4 linked regions of the Homo sapiens genome follow. The protein of the gene in region 3 interacts with the protein of the main gene of each other region in a biochemical or structural test. Each region holds a gene or a part of one and is shown on either strand. Other genes may lie near its edges.

Region 1 (5,189 bases), on a different chromosome or scaffold from region 3:
AAACTTTGCAGATGAGAACAGGAGATTCCAGGCTGCCTCACTTCCTCCGTGAAAAGTTTTTTTCCTAAACTAGGGACCTGAAGTTCTTGATGTGTAGTTCCTCTTTGCCCAGTAGAATCCAGTGATCGCGCTTAGGTTTATCTGCAGACCTGCACGCTACAGGTGGGAGGCTTCCGCGCCTTAATGCTTCTTGTGTTTGTCTTTCCCATTTCTCCCACTCCAGAATTCAGAAGGAGCTGGCGGACATCACTTTAGACCCTCCACCTAATTGCAGGTGAGTTGCTTTTCGGATTTTTTCCATTTTTAAAATTCTTCTAACCTTTGTCTTGGGTTTTTCTTTTTATTATATACTTTTTCTTTGATTCTTTGGCTAATGCTTGTTATGGCACTAACATCACGTAACAGCTGAAATTTATTAACCTGAGTATAATGTTTTGATGAGCCTCTGACAAGCTCAGTACTGTTGAGAAGAAGTAATGGATTTATTTGGAGTGGATTTTTACATATATGAAACAAAACTAAAGTAAATTTAAAGGTGTCTCCTTGCCTAATCATGGGTCTTTGATATGCCATTAAAGATGATGTAAAACCTTTCAGATGCGAAGGACATTTTGGTTTGGAAAACTGCTTTGCTACAGTAATCTCTTATTCAATCTCTGCTAAGCTAAGAGAACATTAGAGTTAAACACTGGATCTTCAAACTTACTCCATAGCATATAGATTTTTTATTAGACTTTTGGCAGAGCAATTCAGGAAACAATTTCTGGCTTTGATAAAGGTTTTCTTTTAAATTGTAGAGTTAAACTTTCATGGGGTGTTTTTTTCACTTGCTTTATTCAGACTGTATACATATGTGTGTTTCAGTTTCAAAACAAATTGAAACCAGCTTTCTAAGGGTTTGTTGATCACAGCTTTATTTAGAGAAGCCATTTTGCTACTGTTGAGTCAAGGTGGAAGACTTGATGACTTTACTAGATCAACAATGAAGTGAGGGTAACTTACAACTATGTATTAGAATAGAACCATTTATTTAAGGGAGGTCCTGTAACTCCCATACTTTAAAAATTAAGTATAACATTTAACCTAGTTCTCAAGATCGGCGTTGGAAAGGGATGTGAGATTTCAGAAATACTCTAAACTTATTGGTAGGAGTAGAAGTTACTGACAAAGTATTCAGCGGCTATACACAATTTTTAAGATGAGTGTGTGGGAATAGGTTGAAAAGCTAAATGAAGTATTTTGTTTAGTAACAGTGAACTTTGGAAACTAATTAGTGGATTAAATACAAAACTATTGCCGTTTTGGTTACATTCATTCTTAATGTTGATTAGGTGTGGGATGCTCTTCCGTGAAACTTTGTCCTGTTTTGTAAGGAAAGTCATTTTGAGTTTGAAATGCTCTTAAACTATAGTTTATAATTGGAACACTTAATCATTCTGGGGAATTCTTTCCTGGCTAATAATCTCTCAAGATGGTTGAGAAGTGGAAAAACCATAAGACTTAGGCCTAACTCATTATTTTGATGGTGGTGGTTCACGTGGAAGCCTGTAGCTTCCCTTGGTTGTTTGTGTGGAATCCATGTACATTCCCCAAGGTGGTTCTGTGCTGTCTAGTTATTGCTCCTGCTTGGTATTGTGTGTCTCCTATGTGTGTGTTATTAATAACATTGATTAAAACATATAATGGCTTTCTTGTGAATAAGCACAGTCAAATCTAAAATTGTAAACCATTTGAAGATTTTCATGGGATTAAGCATTTAAAAAAAAAAAACAGTGTAAGTACACTTCAGTTTCACATCGTTTTAACTGAGTTTATGTGTGAAAGATTTATGCTCCTGAGGCATGTGGAACTTTTTTATCTTTGGGAAACCCTCCCAATTACCCCTTCAAGGTGAAACGTTTGGGAATTACCTGTGGTCAGGGGATGCACCAAACTGGGTGGCTGTTGGGTGATTGGTGTTACGGAGTCAAAGCTCAAAATACTAAATTTTAAGAAAAATCTCTGATTTGAGAGAAAATACGAGGCATCTTCATTTTGCAAGAGAATGTATATTACATTGTCTTTTAACAATAAAGATGACTTTATTTTCTGAAGATATTTTCCAGTGGGGCCGTTTGAGTAATGTGAATTAAAATTTTTACTTTTGGTTGGCTAATGGTGCTGTCTTAATGTTATATAGTAGTCCCAATATTCAGCTCTCTTAAAAGAGTTCGGTTTTACGTTTTGTGCTGTTACCTTTTGGAATTTAATTATTTAGTATTTTAATGTACTTTATTGGAGATAAAGATGGATTATTTATTTATTTATTTATTTATTTTCTTTTTGAGACGGAGTCTTGCTCTGTAGCCCAGGCTGGAGTGCAGTGGCATGATTTCGGCTCATTGCAACCTCCACCTCCCGGGTCCTGGTTCAAGCAATTCTCCTGCCTCCTGAGTAGCTGGGATTATAGGCACGTGCCACCATGCCCAGCTAATTTTTGTATTTTGGGTAGAGATGGGGTTTCACCATGTTGGCCAGGCAGGTCTTGAACTCCTGACCTTGTGATCTGCCCGCCTTGGCCTCCCAAAGTGCTGGGGTTACGGGCGTGAGCCACTGCACCTGGCCTTGGGGATACTTTTTGAAGTCAGCGTCCAATGAAAATCTATGAATTAAGTGATATATTAAGTGCGTACATGTTTAAAATTACCCTCAGCATGAAAGCATGAGATTTGAATGAGTTAAATAATTGGTTTTCAATTAGTCTGTCTTATATTTTTACCCTTTGCCATACTTCCTTTCTTCAGTCAGCATTCAGTGTGTAGTTTTAAACACGTTATTAAAATATGGCACTTGGCACATAGTAACTTCTCAGTAAATACAAAAATTAGCCGGGCATGGTGATGCACTCCAGCCTGGGCGACAGAGTGAGACCCTGTCTCAAAAAAAAAAGTTGATTATTGCAAATCAGTAGAATTGCTCCTCTTGAAGGAAGGTGCACTGTTTGTGTTCACTAATTTTGGCACTTGGCAAAAATATTTGAAGTTACTGAGCATCAAAACTTATGTGAAATGCAATTGCTCAATATGTTATAATGTATGAAAACATAAAATTAAATTCTTAATGTTGTATATTATGTTGGGTGGATATTTTTTAGAACACAGTACAGATTGTGTTCAATGACCTGGTCCAAAGTCATTTTAAGTAAGTATTTTCAAACTGCTTTATGTTGCCATAGAAATCAAATTCTTAATTTTAGTATCTGTGATTTGTGTGTGTGTGTATATATATGCATACACACACACACAAAATAGTTTCCCAACTCACTCTTCATTTTGGTTAGGCTTTTATTCCCATATCATTTAGCTCTATTCTTTTAGGGAAAAAAATATGTTAACTTTGTAATGATTCCCTAAAGCGTGCCAGATCTTAGATTGTAAAATTATGCCTTTTAGATAGCTGATGAACTCTGGGCCACCAGAGTCAGTTTTGCAGCTGTTATTTATAGCCCAGGGCTCAAACTTTGCTAAATTGACTAGTTATAACTAGCCTGTAGACACGAATATCTGTAGACAGTATGTCTATACAGACTAAATGGCATATTTTGCCTAAGTCCTTTAAACTTCAGATTTTATTTAATGGATATATTTGTTTCATGAGTAAATGTCTCAGTGACTTAACCTAGAAATTCAGATGGGGTGCTATTTTAGGATAAAATGTCTGAAAAGTCATTAAACACTTCAAGCATGGGTGAGAATAATAAAAATACATTTCTTTCTTTCTCACTTTTTTTTTGAGACAGGGTCTCATTTTGTCACCCAGGCTGGAGTGCAGTGGTGCTCACTGCAGCCTTGACCTCCTGGGCTTAAGCTGTCCTCCTGCTTCAGGCCCCCAAGTAGCAGGAACTACAGGCGTTCGACACTACACTCGGTTAATTTTTTGTATTTTTTTGTAGAGACCAGGTTTTACCTATTGGCCAGGCTGATCTTAAACTCCTGGCCTCAAGCCGTCCACCCACTTTGCCCTTCCAGAGTGCTGGGATTACAGGCGTGAGCCATGGTGCCTGGCCCTGATACTAGTTTTTCTGTATGTGACAGAATTTCCATTTAGCCTTCTTTTGATAGCTTTTTTTTCCCTAACACTGCCTATATTTTAAATAGTTTTAAGCCATTATATTATACAAGAATGCATGTTTTTGAAAAATTCAAATACAGAAGTTTGTGGAGTAAAAGGCAAAAGATAGTCCTGATGACCTCTTCTGATCCTGCTCCTTGCACACAGATGCTCCAAGTTAGCACTTTGTATACTTCCACGTAGTTTCTGTGAATTTACATTGTGTTTTTCTGGCATTCCAATACCTCCTCGAATTGGTGGTAATGGTAATGAGATGTCAGTTCAGAAGTCCCAGGCTGCTCATCATGGTTCACAATGGAAAGAGATCCTTTTCTTGCAACAGTGGAGTGTTACATACCTCGTCCAGGTTCAGCATGTTTTAAATGGTTGTTTGGGTATAAGAAATAGGTTCAGCAGAAGTCATCCTTTATAAAACCCTGTATCTTATGTGCTAAAAAGTATTCTTCCTTTTAGCATCTTTCATTTATCTGATGTTACTAAATGCGTTAAGGATAGAAGTGTGACTTAAACATCTGAATGATGTTTAGTTTCACCATTGCAGTGTGTATACCTTTATGCATGTAAAGGCAGTGTTGAAAAATTGTGACAACCAGGAGACTGGGGTTTCAGCACGATCAAAACAGCACCCATACTAGGGTCAGGCTGTTGGGAATTAGATCATCACTGGGGCCTTTCCTATTAGAGAGGAAAGAAACCCTATCTGGAGATGAATTGCCTTTCAAATGAGCAGGAAGTCTTGTGGCGGTTGTGTTTACCAAAAGACTATATCTGGATTGTAAAACTGTACTATTGTTATTCCTCAGAAAGCTAAACAGAATTACCGTATGACCCAGTAATTTTACTGCTATCTATGTACCCTGAATAATTAAAAACAGAGGCTCAAACAGATAACCTGTATGTCAGTATTCATAGCATTATTCATAGTAGCCAAAAAGTGGAAAAAACCCAAGTGTCTGTCAACAGATGAGTGGATAAACAAAATTTGGTTAATCTATAAACTGGAATATTCATCTATAAAAAGGAATGAAGTTGTGATGCATGGATACAACATGGTTGAACCTTAATGTTATACTAAGTGG
Region 2 (5,189 bases), on a different chromosome or scaffold from region 3:
TTAGACTAATGAGTCATCTACAAGCAGAACTGGTTTAATCTATAGCACAGCAATAAGGAGCTAATTCTTCATTGTGTTTTTCCTTAAATCTATTCTGTTTTAGTCTCAGCACCTAGATACCAAAACTGATGCTTAAAAATGAGCCGGAATGCTTCACTGAATGCACTTATCCCAGTCTTCTACCTTACCTGTTTCATGGCCTGCTTCTTAGCAGCTTCCCTCTGAAGGCTTTCACTCACAGAGGTCTGTAAAACAGAAATATATTGTCACTTTTTAAACAAATTTAAAATTTCTTTTCCAGTACGAGCGTCCCCTATCTAAAATACATGGGACCAGAAGTGTTTTGTATTTCAGATTTTTAAAATACTTACTGGTTCAGCACCCCAAATCTGAAGATCTGATATCTGATGCTCCAATGAGCATTTCATTTGAGCTTCACATTAGTGCTCAAAAAAGTTTTAGATTTTAGAACATTTAGGATTTTTGATTTTCAGATTTGGGATGCTCAACCTGTTTTCTGGTTGGCAATGGTGCCTTACTTATAGTTAAAAGTAAAAAGATAATAATACAAATTAAACTAACATTTTCAGGGTTTTTTCCCTAAACTTCAGGAAATAAATGAATTTGCATTGTAAATCCTCAGAATAGATTATAAGGTATCAGAGAAAATAGAATGGTACAGGAAAAGATGAGTAAACATGAATTTTTAGTCCTAAATTCACTACTGTCATTCAACCTTTACAGATTTCAATTTGCTTCATGTGAACATGTGAGAGAGAGAGAGAGAGAGAGAGAGAGAGAGAGAGAGAGGGAGTGTGTGTGTGTGTGTGTGTGTGTGTGTGTGTGTGTGTGAGAAATGGGGAAAGACTGGTCTAGATAATATTTCAGGTACCTTCCAACACTAAAATGGTATGATTCCCAGCTTACAAAAAGCAAACTATTTTAATATTCACCACTCAATATAGTGTATCAAGCTCTCGGTTTATGTTTAAGGCTTAGGGACAGCAGCAACTATTCGTGGCAATAATCAAAAACTATGTACCAAAAAGCATGTTTAGGTCCTGAGGATAGTGAAAAAGCAAGAACAGTCTCAGTCTTAGGCCAGAGACTGAAACAAAATCTTGTTTTTCAGATAAACAGTCTGAAAGGGAAGACAATTAAAGAAATAATCACAATATATGGCCAGGCGCGGTGGCTCATGCCTGTAATCCCAGCACTTTGGGAGGCTGAGGCAGGCAGATCACTTGAGGCCAGGAGTTTTGAGACCAGCCTGGCCAACATGGTGAAACCCCGTCTCTACTGAAAATACAAAGATGAGCCGGGAGTGTTGGAGCACAGCTGTAATCCCAGCTACTTGAAAGGCTGAGACATGAGAATCACTTGCACCTGGGAGGCAGATGTTGCAGTGAGCCAAAATTGTGCCACTGCACTCCAGCCTGGGCAACAGAACCAGGCTCTGTCTCAAAAAAAAAAAAAAAAAAAAGACAATTACAATATAAATGTGATAAGCAATATAATAAAGGAATAAACAAAGCACTGTGGGAGCCCAGGGCAGAGAAGGCAACTAAATGTATATGAGGAATCAAGAATCCCTTTCCAAAAGAGATATGACATTAGACCAGAATCAAAGAGAATAAAAATGTAAAAGAATGCAAGAGGAAGATAGGAAGTAGTCATCACATGGGCAAAACTAAAGATTACATACAGCTAAGAAAAAAAAATACTTAAGAAAAATATGTTTCCTTAATAGTACAGGCTTTAATCATCAGGGAAATGTAAATCAGAACCACTAAGAGATAACACCTCACACCTGTTAGAATGGCTATTCTAAAAAAGTCAAAAAATAATAAAGGTTAGCATGGGTGCCAGAAAAGGGAATTCTTATATACTGCTGGTGCAGATGTAGGCTGGTACAGTCAATATGGAAAACAGTATGGAGGTTTATAAACAAATTAAAAATAGAACTACCATACAGCCTAGCAATCCCTCTTGGCATATAGCCAAAGGAAATGAAATCACCACCTGGTAAAGGTAGCTTCACTCCCATGTTCATTGCAGCATTATTTGCAATAGCCAGGTATGGAAACAATCTACCTGTTCATTGACAAATGAATGGATAAAGAAACTGTGGTAAATATGTATGATGGAGTATTATTCAGCCTTTAAAAAGGAGATCTTGCCATTTGCCACAATATGAATGGGCCTGGAGGACATTATGCTACATGGTAAGCCAGACACAAAAAGAAAAATAGTACCTGACATCATTTGTAAGTGGAATCTCTCACAGAGATAAAGAACTTAAAAACAATGGTTACTAGGGGTGGGGTGAGAGGAAATGGGAAGAGGTAGGTATGTAACAAGATGAACAAGTCTAGAGATCTAATGTACCACATGAGGACAATAGGTAATAAAATTGTACTATATATGGTATTCATGCTAAATGAGTAAATTGTAGCTGCTCTTGCCACAGAAACAAAAAAAGTATGTAAGATAATGGACATGTTAATTTGCTTTACTGTAGTAAACTTTTTACCATCTATATCCCATAATTGTTATATACCTTAATATGCACAATTAATTTTTTTCAAGTATCAGGATTTGCAAATATACTGACACTGAATTGTATAAAAGCATGAATTTTATGCTATGTGAATTACATCTTTTTAAAAAAGCCAAAATAAAGCTACTGATGCATTTTTAATTCTTTCATTTGTGGGGGCAAGGGCTACATGGGTTATCTCTGTCCCTCTCAATTTTGCTGTCAGTCTAAAACTGCTGTTTAAAAAAAAACGAAGTCTTAAATATACATAAAAACATATGTGTAAGTTTTAAATATATATATGTACACAAAATCCTCAGCTCTAGAATTATAGTAGTCCAGCCTATTAACACTTGCTATCTTCAGTTGTATTGTACCAGCAATTGGTGCTTTTTTTTTTTCATGGTAATAACCAGAACAAAATAGTTCTCTATGACCACAGACAAATCAATTTAATACACAAAGGTCATATAATACATATTTAAAAAATTAAATAAGTATGCAAAGAACTAAAGACATTTTAGGTGATGGTAAACTGACTAACTGGGGGAAAGATGTTGATAACAAAAACAGTAATAGCTGCTAACATTTATTGAGCTAGGTGCTATGCTAAGTATACTAGTTGTGTATTACATGTATTACTGATTTAATCCAAATTTCTGTTACATGTAATATGAAACTTTCATTCACTAGAATATCAATTTTAAATACCAAAACTGAAAGTAATAGTTAATATTTCCAATGTATTTTCATGTCTGTATTTCTGATTAGTATGAATGAAAAATATTTTTCTTGACCACTGAGTTAATGATGTCTTCAGGACTGACTGAGAAGATTACATCTCCAAATGCTGGATGTTTTCCTCTTTTACTTGCTTTTATTTTTTCCTATCTCCTCCTTCAGTCTGTCACCTTTAATCTGTCAGAGTTTACCTGCTGCCTTTCAAACTGGATGCTTCAATCTAAACTATGTAACTTGGTTGTTATGGAAGATTCTCAGAGAAATAAAATAACTTTTAAAAAGAAAACTTGGGAAAGAAAAACACAAGGCTATACCTTTCCAGACTTTTATAAAATATAGAATAAGCAGACTGAGAAAGGCCTTTCCAATGTAGACTATATCTATTTTGAGACACCTCAAAAGATTTTGTTTCTATGTTCATAGCTGTTTAGAAGAATGAAGTATGACCGTTGAAAAAACAAGCTGTTACTACTTACACAGGAAGGTAACATAATGGAAGGAGTGCAATAGTTTTACATATTCTATTCACAAACTTATATCCCTAGAATTCAACAGCATCAGTGGATAACTCTGAACCTAACCTGAAAAAGTCAGGAAAAACTGATGATCTTTTGAAGGTCATTTGATTCTCAATTTTCTAAATAAAGGTACTTTAACAATTACCACTAAGGATGACGATTAAATGCCAAAAACCTGTTTAAACAAATACAAAAAGCTTAAAAGAGTAGCAGTAAAACTTTTACTTTTTTCTGTAATAGTAACCCTATATAAAAATATATAAAATGATCTTCTATATAACATAAAAAACTCATCTAGATTCAGATCAGACTGAAAAATAACTACTACAATTAAAAACAATTTCCTCATAAAAGAGCAGATACTTATTTTATTTTATTTATTATTATTATTATTACTATTATTATTATTATTATACTTTAAGTTTTAGGGTACATGTGCACAACGTGATTGTTTTCAGATAACCATAATAATTATACTATGTAATTTTAAGATTGAGAACAAAAATTGGCACATGTATTGTGGCCTATTCTGTGTGTCTTTTTTGAATCTATAATTCTGCTAAGAACTGTGCAGAATATAAAAGGATGTTGCTTGTGTTTAATTTTTATGATTCTTTAAATATATTTTAAATGGAAATCCAGAAAGGAAATATATTAATCTAAAAATAGTAACAACAACAGTAGTTACAATAATCCTAACAACTTCAGAAATAATGGATAAGTAAGCTAAATGACATATAGAAGTCACCTTTAATTGTTAAGGCTACAGATTACCTGAGAGAATTTAAGGACAAACAGCTGGTGAATGGCAAAGCAAGATTCCAATTCAGGTACTCTTATTCCAAACTTTAATAACTTTCCTTTAAACACCAGTACTGGATATACACTGAAATGTCTCAAGACAACACAGAATTAAAAGGCATGGAAAGGTACAAATAGCCTATAGCATAAATCTGATTTAAACTTTATAATATTGAACGGTGTCCTATGTTGCTATTATTGGAAATTCACCAACTGAGATGATTCCTCTGAAAACGTAAAGCTGAGGTATGATTCCATCTACTAGAGTAACATAAGTATTATTATAACTGTACATGTACTGTTGACCATTAGAGTGGAAAGTCACATAAAATGAAAACACAGAATGTTATTAACATTAAAGGAAAAACGAGTCTATTTAGTATTTGATATTTTAAGTACTGTTTCTACATCTACTCCATAGTATCAATGAAAAACAGATTCCTTCAGATACATTGTAGTCATATCATGAATGGGAAAATATTTTTCTTTTTAACAAATATCTTAAATACATATATTTATGTGTGAGAAAAAAAACTACTACAATTAAAAGCAGATCAGTAAGATCTTATTTTTTTTTTTAAGACAGAGTC
Region 3 (4,096 bases):
CAGGAAGCTAACCCTTTTCTAGAAAACGTTCTCCAAGCTCCCGTCCTAATGCTGTGGCACTTTCTCTGACATACTGAGAACACTCTGGGGTGGGGGTGTGTGTATGCAAATGTATAGACACTGTTCATTAAGGCTTATATAAATTAAAAAAGTGGTCCAAAGAATATCACATTTTTCCCCAGTTTTAAAATCTAAAGTACAAAGTGGAGTTTATAAGGATTTGTTTTTTAAAAACACATCTCAGTCCTGAAATTGGCAGTTCTGACACGACTTATCAGGATGTACCCCAATGCCTGAATGACAGAGGTAGTGATCTTCGGGGTCAGGGGAGGTCAGGAAGGGAGCAGGCGGGCAGTTACCCTGCACAGCGGCACCCTCTACTGGCGAGGCAGCAAATGATACCAGACAGCACCTCCCACCTCTCCCTCTTAAGTACAGGGGTGCAGGGCCAGGGTAAGGAGGAGACAGAAGAAGGAGAACTAGCACAGTGTCACGTAGGGGCTGCAGAACTGATTAACCCAGGCTCTCTTTATACGTTTTTAAATTTCAGAGGTGAGTACAAGACTCTCAGAAATACAGGAGTCGACTGTTAATGGGTAACTGTTAGAATAATTAAAAAGTTGCTGTGTATGAACCTGGCTTTCGGGAGGACCAGTGTGGATCTGGCAAGATAGCAGCGGTGCACACTCTCTATGCAACAATGGGAGATGTAGAAAATGGTTCAAATGTTTTGCATGCTGTTTCTCAGAATCTGTCACTGTGAGGCCGGGTGCGGTGGCTCATGCTTGTAATCCCAGCACTTTGGAAGGCTGAGGCGGGAGGATCACCTGAGGTCAGGAGTTCAAGACCAGCCTGGCCAGCATGGTGAAACCATCTCTACTAAAAATACAAAAATTAGCCAGGCGTGGTGGTGGGTGCCTGTAATCCCAACTATTCGGGGAGGCTGAGGCAGAAGAATCGCTTGAAGCCAGGAGGCAGAGGTTGTGGTGAGCTGAGATTGAGCCACTGCACTCCAGCCTGAGCTACAGAGCAAGACTCTGTCTCAGAAATAACAATAATAATCTGTCCCTTTGTCCTTACATGGGAGAAATAATACATGCCAAGTCGCTCTGTATCCCTCATTGTCTGAATTTAGGGAATATCTGATGTCACCTTCTGAAGGGTCCTGGAAACAAAAACCAAGTGTCTTACCTTTGTTCTTGAGATTTGTTAGAGGACTGGCTGCAGAGAAGCATAAACATTTCAGGCAAAAAGGAAAAGAGCACTGAAGCTGGGAATACACCGCAACACAGACAATGAATGCCTCACTGCTGCCGGCTCCAGGGCCAGCAGTGGAGAGGCACAGGCTGTTGGACCTTCATCCCACCAGGTGCTCTTTCCACATCCTTCCTCGGGCCAACAAGGGGCAGGAATGGAAATACCCGGGACCCACAGGCAGCTGTGATAACTGATGTTAAGAGAACCGCAACAGGCAGTGTGTGAGCTCCGGCACGTACTTCTCAGCCTCATGTAAGTGGCCCATAATAACTACAGCTTCAGCAGACAACTAAAGAGACTGCATTAAGGTGATTTCTCTGGCTATAAAGAGAGCCCGGCCTGCAGAGCAGTGTGACTGCTGGGACCTCTGGGATAGGCAACACTGCCCTCTCTCCCCCAGGGCTACTCCCCGGGCAGGTCGGGGCCCAAGGAATGACCCAGCAACTGCTCCTTACCCAGCACACTCTCTTTACTGCCACCTGCAATTATGCTGTGAAGATGACTGGGTGTGGTCATCACGATTCAGAGAAATCAAGATCTATGACCATTTTAGGCAAAGAGAGAAACTTGGAGAATTGCTGAGGACTACTGAACCTTGTTTTGCTTTTTTAAAAAATACTAAATCCTCACTTCAGCATATTTAGTTGTCATTAAAATTAAGCTGATATTATTAAGGGGTTGATGAACTGAGGTGTCACTCACAATTACTGCCTTCCAAGTATTCATGGGGTAGATTTCAGTAATTCTTGTTTGCTTCTGGCTTAGAAATTGTCAGAATGATTTTTCTTTTATACTTTCCAATACTTGACTTAATATGCATTTAGTGACATTCTGTTTTTTTCAATATACGGTTTACAAGATGACAGAAGAATCCCAGTTCTTAGGTTAGAATTGGATTTCTCCCTCTACAATTACACAATTACTCTCAAAAACCAAGAAAGCATACTGCTCGACTCAGGCTCTGGCATGATTCTTAAAAAGAAAACTGCCTCTAGACTATGGGGGCTTACAAAAAGGGGATTTTTGCCACTGAGACATTTGTCATGTTAACTGTAGCGGAAAACATCTCACCAATAGTCAAAACTCATGAGCGGGAATTTTTTTTTTTTTTTTTTTTTTTTTTTTTTTTTTTTTAGTTACATAGCATCTAAGTTTTCTGATCACTACCAGGTAATTTTCAACCAATAAGAAAAAGGAACCAACACTCAGCTCTGTAGAAATCTACCTTCTTTTAGAAACCTCAGGCCTCTGCACCCCTTTAGACAACTCATTTACAACCACAACCTTCCATGGCTTCTCACATGCCAGCCAGGGCAGGGTAAAAACGGCAATTTCTTACACCGAAAGGTCCTTTTTATGTAACAAACAGACCTCCCCAAACCACAACTTTTTTGTCCTATTGATGACTCGCATGAGATCAAATCTCTAGTGTCCCCTGACTGCCCCGACAGGGTCTAGGACAACACAGGTTAAAAAGGACAGCAGGGTCGTTCAACTCCCACACTGCCTCAGGTGTTTTCTCAAAGCACGACAATTCTGCAATGGAGACTTACACGTGGAAAAGAATCAAACTGTGCAGGTACCCTCAGTCCTCTGCCACTACCAGCTCAATAGCTTGAGCTCAGAGGATCAAGTCAAGTCTCTGTCTCACTTTTAATCTAGCACACAAGAGGCACAACTCAGGCAGTACACGGTATTGAAGCATGCAACAGGTCATTGGTAACAAAACTCAGTTAGATTAAGAGTACATTAAATAAATCTTTGTAGTTGAGTAGAAATCACAAAACAGTTGGTGAGGACAGGTCTGTAGGCTCAGCTTTACATCCAGGTTTTTATACACCAGCAGCCAGATTCACAATTGATAGATATTGCACCGGAAAGATGTGTGCAGGGAAAAGAAATCATCATCACATTTAATGTTCATGATAAAAAAATAAAAACAAAACCAGATATGACCTCCATGTAGTACATAAAGTGCCTTCAGAATTGGTGCATTTACAACAAAAACTGGTTATTTAGCTACCATTAGCAAACGCATACAAACAGGAGACTAAACAGATCTGGTTTCCACAGTTTTGAATCAAGCAGTGCCAAGTTTCATTCAAAATGTCTCTACTACAAACAGCAAAGAGGAAATAGAATAAAAGATGACTGTACAGCGCCAGGAAGGGTTAAGTAATTTCTCGGATGAGAAATGGGAGTCCAACCCTGTCTCAAATGTGTTAGAACACATGTAATTACTTCTAAGGAATAATGGTGTGATTCCTTTCAAGTCAACACAAAATTTGTCATGCTATGTTACAATTCTCTCAGCCTGTAGCTATTAGCTAAATTTGTACAAAAAAACCCCAAAACAAAAACGTAATATCCAGTTTTTCATTCTGAGTATGGAAAAAATTATCATTATGTCTAATATTATATTGGAAATTCTCTCAAAGTACTTGTCTGTAGGTTTTTGGACAAAAATTTGCCTTCCAATTCTAATAAAGTAGAGGGTGGAGGTGTCAGAGTACTTCAAAAATAAAAATGTCATTGACATTAAGCCTGGTATGAAAGTGAAATACAAAAAAAAAAAAAATGCTCACTTTTCCAAGTACATGAGACATCTTTAATCATAACGAAATAAAATCTGAAAATCGGTCTAAATCATTTTAAAAAGTAAACATGAGTCGTAATACTATACCTGTTGAGTGATTAATTCCATTCATTGTCATTAGAAAGGATGTAAAATATTTATTAAGGGCTTTGCCTGCAGAGGCACAACATAAATAGCATTAAGTCCTCCTGAAATGTAATTAGTGTACACATCAACCAGTTGATAATTTGTGGTGGGAAAGGC
Region 4 (5,189 bases), on a different chromosome or scaffold from region 3:
AAATGCTACTAGAACACTTTTAGCTACTATCTCTTTTGATATCTTGACCACTGTTCAATAATTCATAGTACAATTCTAAAATACCCAAATTCTACATCAAGTTTTGTTTTTAAAAGAAATTTGGGGCTTTCACGTCTAATGGCATTTATTTGCTTTCTTCCTTTAGATTATGTCAAATGGTAGGAAATCAATTCTCTTTTCCCATTAATTGACAAATACCTATGGCAGGCAAATGGGCACTTGATGAAAAGTGCTTTATATATCAAAAGCCAAGCATAAGGCATTAAGCTGTTGAAAAATATACCATAGGAAAGTTTTTGTATGGGTGTGGTGGCTCACACCTGTAATCCCAGCACTTTGGGAGGCCTAGGCAGGCAGATCATTTGAGGTCAGGAGTTCGAAACCAGCCTGGCCAACATGGTAAAAGTCTCTACTAAAACTACAAAAAAAACGAACCTGGCGTGGTGGCCTGCGCCTGTAATCCCATCTACTCGGGAGGCTGAGGCATGAGAATCACTTGAACCCAGGAGGCGGAGGTTGCAGTGAGCCAAGACTGCACCATTGCACTCTAGCCTGGGTGACAGAGTAAGACCCTGTCTCAAAAAAAAACAAACAAAAAAAAAAGTTTTTGTAGACAAGAGGAGTCACGTGAAACAATCAGGGATAAGACTGGCATCATCTACTTATAATAATACTCAATGCATATATTTCTCTTTTCTAGCCCCAGGAGAGTATATTAGGACTTCACTTTAAATATCTGGCCGATATTCAGCCCTTAAACAAGAAAGATTTGTGACAAACATCTCCATCCCACCACAGATAACTTTCCATCTTGAGGCCATACTTACTTTTCTCTATCTGTTTTGTAGATCCGAGCAATCTCAGGCACTAAAGGATCATCTGGATTGGGATCACACAACAGAGAACAGATGGACAAGAGTACTAGAATGAAAAAAATCATATAAATTAGCAGAGGATCAAAGCAAAGGGTTGAGAGAAACATGAGACGCCAAAACATGAGAAAATTCTAAGAATTTATACTGTAATGCCTAGCAGCTTTGTAAGTTTTACTTAACTTTATATTAACAGTAACCAACAAGGATTATTATTATTATTATTATTTCTTTTTTTTTTAGCAGAATTGGGGTTTCACCATGTTGGCCAGGCTGGTCTCGAACTCCTGACCTCAGGTGATCCACCCACCTCGGCCTCCCAAAGTCCTGGGATTACAGGCTTGAACCACCATGCCTGGCCTAATTTTTGTATTTTTAGTAGAGATGGGGTTTCGCCATGTTGGTCAGGCTGGTCTGGAACTCCTGACCTCGTGATTCACCCGCCTCGGCCTCCCAAAGTGCTGGGATTACAAGCGTGAGCCACCACACCTGGCAAATAGTTTTTTTTATTTTTTATTTTTTGAGACGGAGTCTGGCTCTGTCGCCCAGACTGGAGTGCAGTGGCGCGGCGCGGTCTAGGCTCACTGCAAGCTCCGCCTCTCAGGTTCACACCATTCTCCTGCTTCAGCCTCCTGAGTAGCTGGGACTACAGGCACCCGCCACCACGCCCGGCTAATTTTTTGTATTTTTAGTAGAGACGGGGGTTTCACCGTGTTAGCCAGGATGGTCTCGATCTCCTGACCTCGTGATCCGCCCACCTTGGCCTCCCAAAGTGCTGGGATTACAGGCGTGAGCCACTGCACCCAGCCTACCAACAAGGATTTTAAGAAGCTTAAACAGACTTTAGGTTAGGTCATTAAAAAATAAAAATGAAGGCTGGCTGCAGTGGCTCATGCCTGTAATCCCAGCACTTTGGGAGGCGGAGGGGGGTGGATCACGAGATCAAGAGATTGAGACCATCCTGGCCAACATGGTAAAACCCCATCTCTACTAAAAATACAAAAATTAGCTGGGCGTGGTGGTGTGTGCCTGTAGTCCCAGCTACTCAGGAGGCTGAGGCTGGAGAATCGCTTGAACCTGGGAGGTGGAGGTTGCAGTGAGCCGAGATCGTAGCATTGCACTCCAGCCTGGGCGACACAGCAAAAAATCCATCTCCAAAAAATAATAATTATAATAAAAAATAAAAAATAAAATAAAACAAATAGCAGAAAATTAATGTTAAATGACATCTTGGTCTCCCAGATACAAATATAAGCCCCTTTGTGCAAAGTCTCACAACAATCCCATGATGTAAGAAGAGTTGATATGACTGTCTTTATGCCTGAACTCCTAAGGGAGCTGGCCCAGACAGGTGCAGTGACGTGTTCAATGTCCCTGGCTAGTAATTAGAATAGAATTAGAACTTTGTCTAAATTCTAGACCAAGAACATTTTTCAGATCCCATAAAGTTCAATTTTTTAGAAGCCCATATTCAAGGATAAATGGCTTTCAAAATTCCAAGTGCGATGGCTCACTCCTGTAATCACAGCACTTTGGGAGGCCACAGCAGAAGGATCGCTTCAGGCCAAGAGTCTGAGACCAGCCTAGGCAACAGAGTGAGATTCTGTCTCTACAAAAAATAAAAATATTAGCTGGATGTGGTGGCACACTCCTATGGTCCCAGCTACTCAGGAGGCTGAGGTGGGAGGATCACTTACGCCCAAGAGGTTAAGGCTGTATTGAGCTGTGTTCACACCACTGCACTCCAATCTGGGTGACAGAGTGAGACCCTGCCTCAAAAAGAAAAAAAAAAAAGACAGCCACACTACTGAATATTCTTAGCAAAAACGACAACCATAAAATCCAACAATCACTGTTTTCCAGTGGCAGGCACCACATTCAGACAATTGTTTTGTTTAATTTTCAGTTGAAAACAATTCAGTCTAAATCAAGAACATAAATGCAAACACTTGCCCCTAAATGGGGATGGTCATACACTCATTACAGAGAATACAACATACTTCTATGAATGTCTCAAATTCTCTTCAGTGACAATTTAGAATCTCATCTAAGCCATTTCCTCGGTGACAACCTGGGATGTAGCAGACAAATCTCAATAGTGTAATTTCCTTTGTTCAAATCTGTCATTAACTTATGTTTTAAAATATTTATTTATTTATGTATGTATTTATTTAGAGACAGGGTCTCACTCTGTCGCCCAGGCTGGAGTGCAGTGGCATGATCTTGGCTCATTGCAGCCTAAACCTCCTGGGCTCAAGTCATCCTCCCACCTCACTCTCCAGGTAAGACTACAGGTGAGTGCCACCATGTGTAGCTAATTTTCTTTGTATTTTTTGTAGAGGTTGGGTTTTGCCATGTTGGCCAGGCTAGTCTTGATCTCCTAGGCTCAAGTGATCCACCTGCCTCGGCCTCCCGAAGTGCTGGGATTACAGGCGTGAACTACCACACCCGGCCATATCTATCATTAACTTATGCATTCCTTACTGAATGCAAAGGGGGCATAAAGTCACTGATTACATTAAGTTCAGTAGCCTCTGACAAAATAAATTTAAATCCTTCTATACTAATGCTAATAGAGCTCAGCCATCTTTCTTTTCTCTAATAGGTGTTCTGTACCAAGAGATAATAACTCTCAGCCCATTTTACTCCCAACACATAAATTCAGCAGGGAAAGGATTCGCTCATATTCCTACCAAATCTATCCTATAGAGATCAAGGGCTTCTGAGAAGTAAAGAAATAGTTGGCATGCCCTATTCAGTTTGGTAACAAAAATGCTATTTCCTTGCCTTAAGAGTATATGAAAAGTTTTTTTAAAAAATCAGGAGAGATGTTTTCTGACTCTTCATTCCTGTTACCCACAATTCTGGCAGCTGGCATTCCAAAAACATTTTCCTATTGTCAGGTGTCATCACCTGAAGCCCTCTTCAAGCATAGAACATTCTAACATCAATTAGGAAAGACTTCATGTATTTCCTGGAAATGACAACAGGGAAGTTAGAAATTTTTGAATGTTCCTTTAACTTATTCTTCTAAATATTCTAATAAGTCAACTTTAAAGGACAGGTTTTAAAGAAAGGGCTTTTCTTTCTTTCCAGGAAAGGAGAGTACTGGCTATCTGGACCTTGTGAAAAGATTTTTAGTACACTACTTAGCTTCTTGATTTCATGAAGAATTCATTTTGGTTTCTAATATACTGATATGGTTTGGATCTGTGTCCCCACACAAATCTCATGTTCAACTGTAATCCCCAACGTTGGAGGTGGGGCCTGGTGGGAGGCGACTGGATTATGGGGGTGTATCCTTCATGAATGGTTTAGCACGACCCCTTTGGTGCTGTTCTTGTGATAGAGTTCTCATGAGATCTGGCTGTTTAACAGTGTGTGGCACCTCCCCCATCTCTCTCTTGGTCCTGCTACTGCCATGTGAGACAGGTGGCTCCCCCTTTGCCTTCTGCCATGAGTAAAAGCTCCCGAGGACTCCGCAGAAGCAGATGCTGCCATGCTTTCTGTATAGCCCACAGAACTGTGAGCCAATTAAACCTCCTTTTTTTTTGAGACGGAGTTTCACTCTTGTTGCCCAGGCTGGAGTGCAATGGCGCGATCCCAGCTTCCTGCAACCTCCGCCTCCCGGGTTCAAGCGATTCTCCCGCCTCAGCCTCCCAAGTAGCTGGGATTACAGGCATGCACCACCAAGCCAGGCTAATTTTTGTATTTTTGGTAGAGATGGGGTTTCTCCATGTTGGTCAGGCTGGTCTCAAACTCCCGACCTCAGTGATCTGCGCATCTCGGCCTCCCAAAGTGCTGGGATTACAAGAGTGAGCCACCGCACCTGGCAAAACCCTTTTCTTTATAAATTATCCAGTCTCAGGTATTTCTTTATAGCAGTGCAAGAATGGACTGATACATATACTATACCTTCTTCTGTAAAGATAGTAACTCTTATTTCTATAACCTGTATAGTCTCTTCACTGAACTTTTACCTATATATATTCTTCATCAGTATTACTTTTTTTTTTTTTTTGAGACAGACTCTTGCTCTGTTGCCCAGGCTGGAGCACAGTGGTGTGATGTTGGCTCACTGCAACCTCTCCCTCCCAGGTTCAAGTGATTCTTGTGCCTCAGCCTCCCGAGTAGTTGGGACTATAGACACACACCACCCTGCCCTGCTAATTTTTGTATTATTGGTAGAAATCAGGTTTCACTATGTTGGCCAGGCTGTTCTTAAACTCCTGACCTCAAGTGATCCACCTTCCTTGGCCTCTCAAAGTGGATTACAGTCATGAGCCACTGCGCCTG

What was found. Proteins that work in one complex are often made in the same cells at the same time.
Region 1: the proteins of NEDD4L (region 3) and UBE2E1 form a complex in vitro, tested with the Homo sapiens proteins (2 studies listed by BioGRID).
Region 2: the proteins of NEDD4L (region 3) and NSRP1 form a complex in vitro, tested with the Homo sapiens proteins (one large-scale study listed by BioGRID).
Region 4: the proteins of NEDD4L (region 3) and UBE2D2 form a complex in vitro, tested with the Homo sapiens proteins (11 studies listed by BioGRID, with this or other methods).

Annotation. Positions count from the first base shown.
Region 1 is NC_000003.12:23,811,237-23,816,425, forward strand, and holds part of UBE2E1 (ubiquitin-conjugating enzyme E2 E1), read left to right. Parts: intron 1-223; coding exon 224-274; intron 275-5,189. UniProt on the Homo sapiens protein: Accepts ubiquitin from the E1 complex and catalyzes its covalent attachment to other proteins. Catalyzes the covalent attachment of ISG15 to other proteins. Mediates the selective degradation of short-lived and abnormal proteins.
Region 2 is NC_000017.11:30,167,598-30,172,786, reverse strand, and holds part of NSRP1 (nuclear speckle splicing regulatory protein 1), read right to left. Parts: intron 4,685-5,189; coding exon of another isoform or gene 4,573-4,684; intron 3,887-4,572; exon of another isoform or gene 3,862-3,886; intron 246-3,861; coding exon 189-245; intron 1-188. UniProt on the Homo sapiens protein: RNA-binding protein that mediates pre-mRNA alternative splicing regulation.
Region 3 is NC_000018.10:58,396,453-58,400,548, reverse strand, and holds part of NEDD4L (E3 ubiquitin-protein ligase NEDD4-like), read right to left. Parts: 3' UTR 1-4,096. UniProt on the Homo sapiens protein: E3 ubiquitin-protein ligase that mediates the polyubiquitination of lysine and cysteine residues on target proteins and is thereby implicated in the regulation of various signaling pathways including autophagy, innate immunity or DNA repair.
Region 4 is NC_000005.10:139,619,121-139,624,309, reverse strand, and holds part of UBE2D2 (ubiquitin-conjugating enzyme E2 D2), read right to left. Parts: intron 943-5,189; coding exon 849-942; intron 1-848.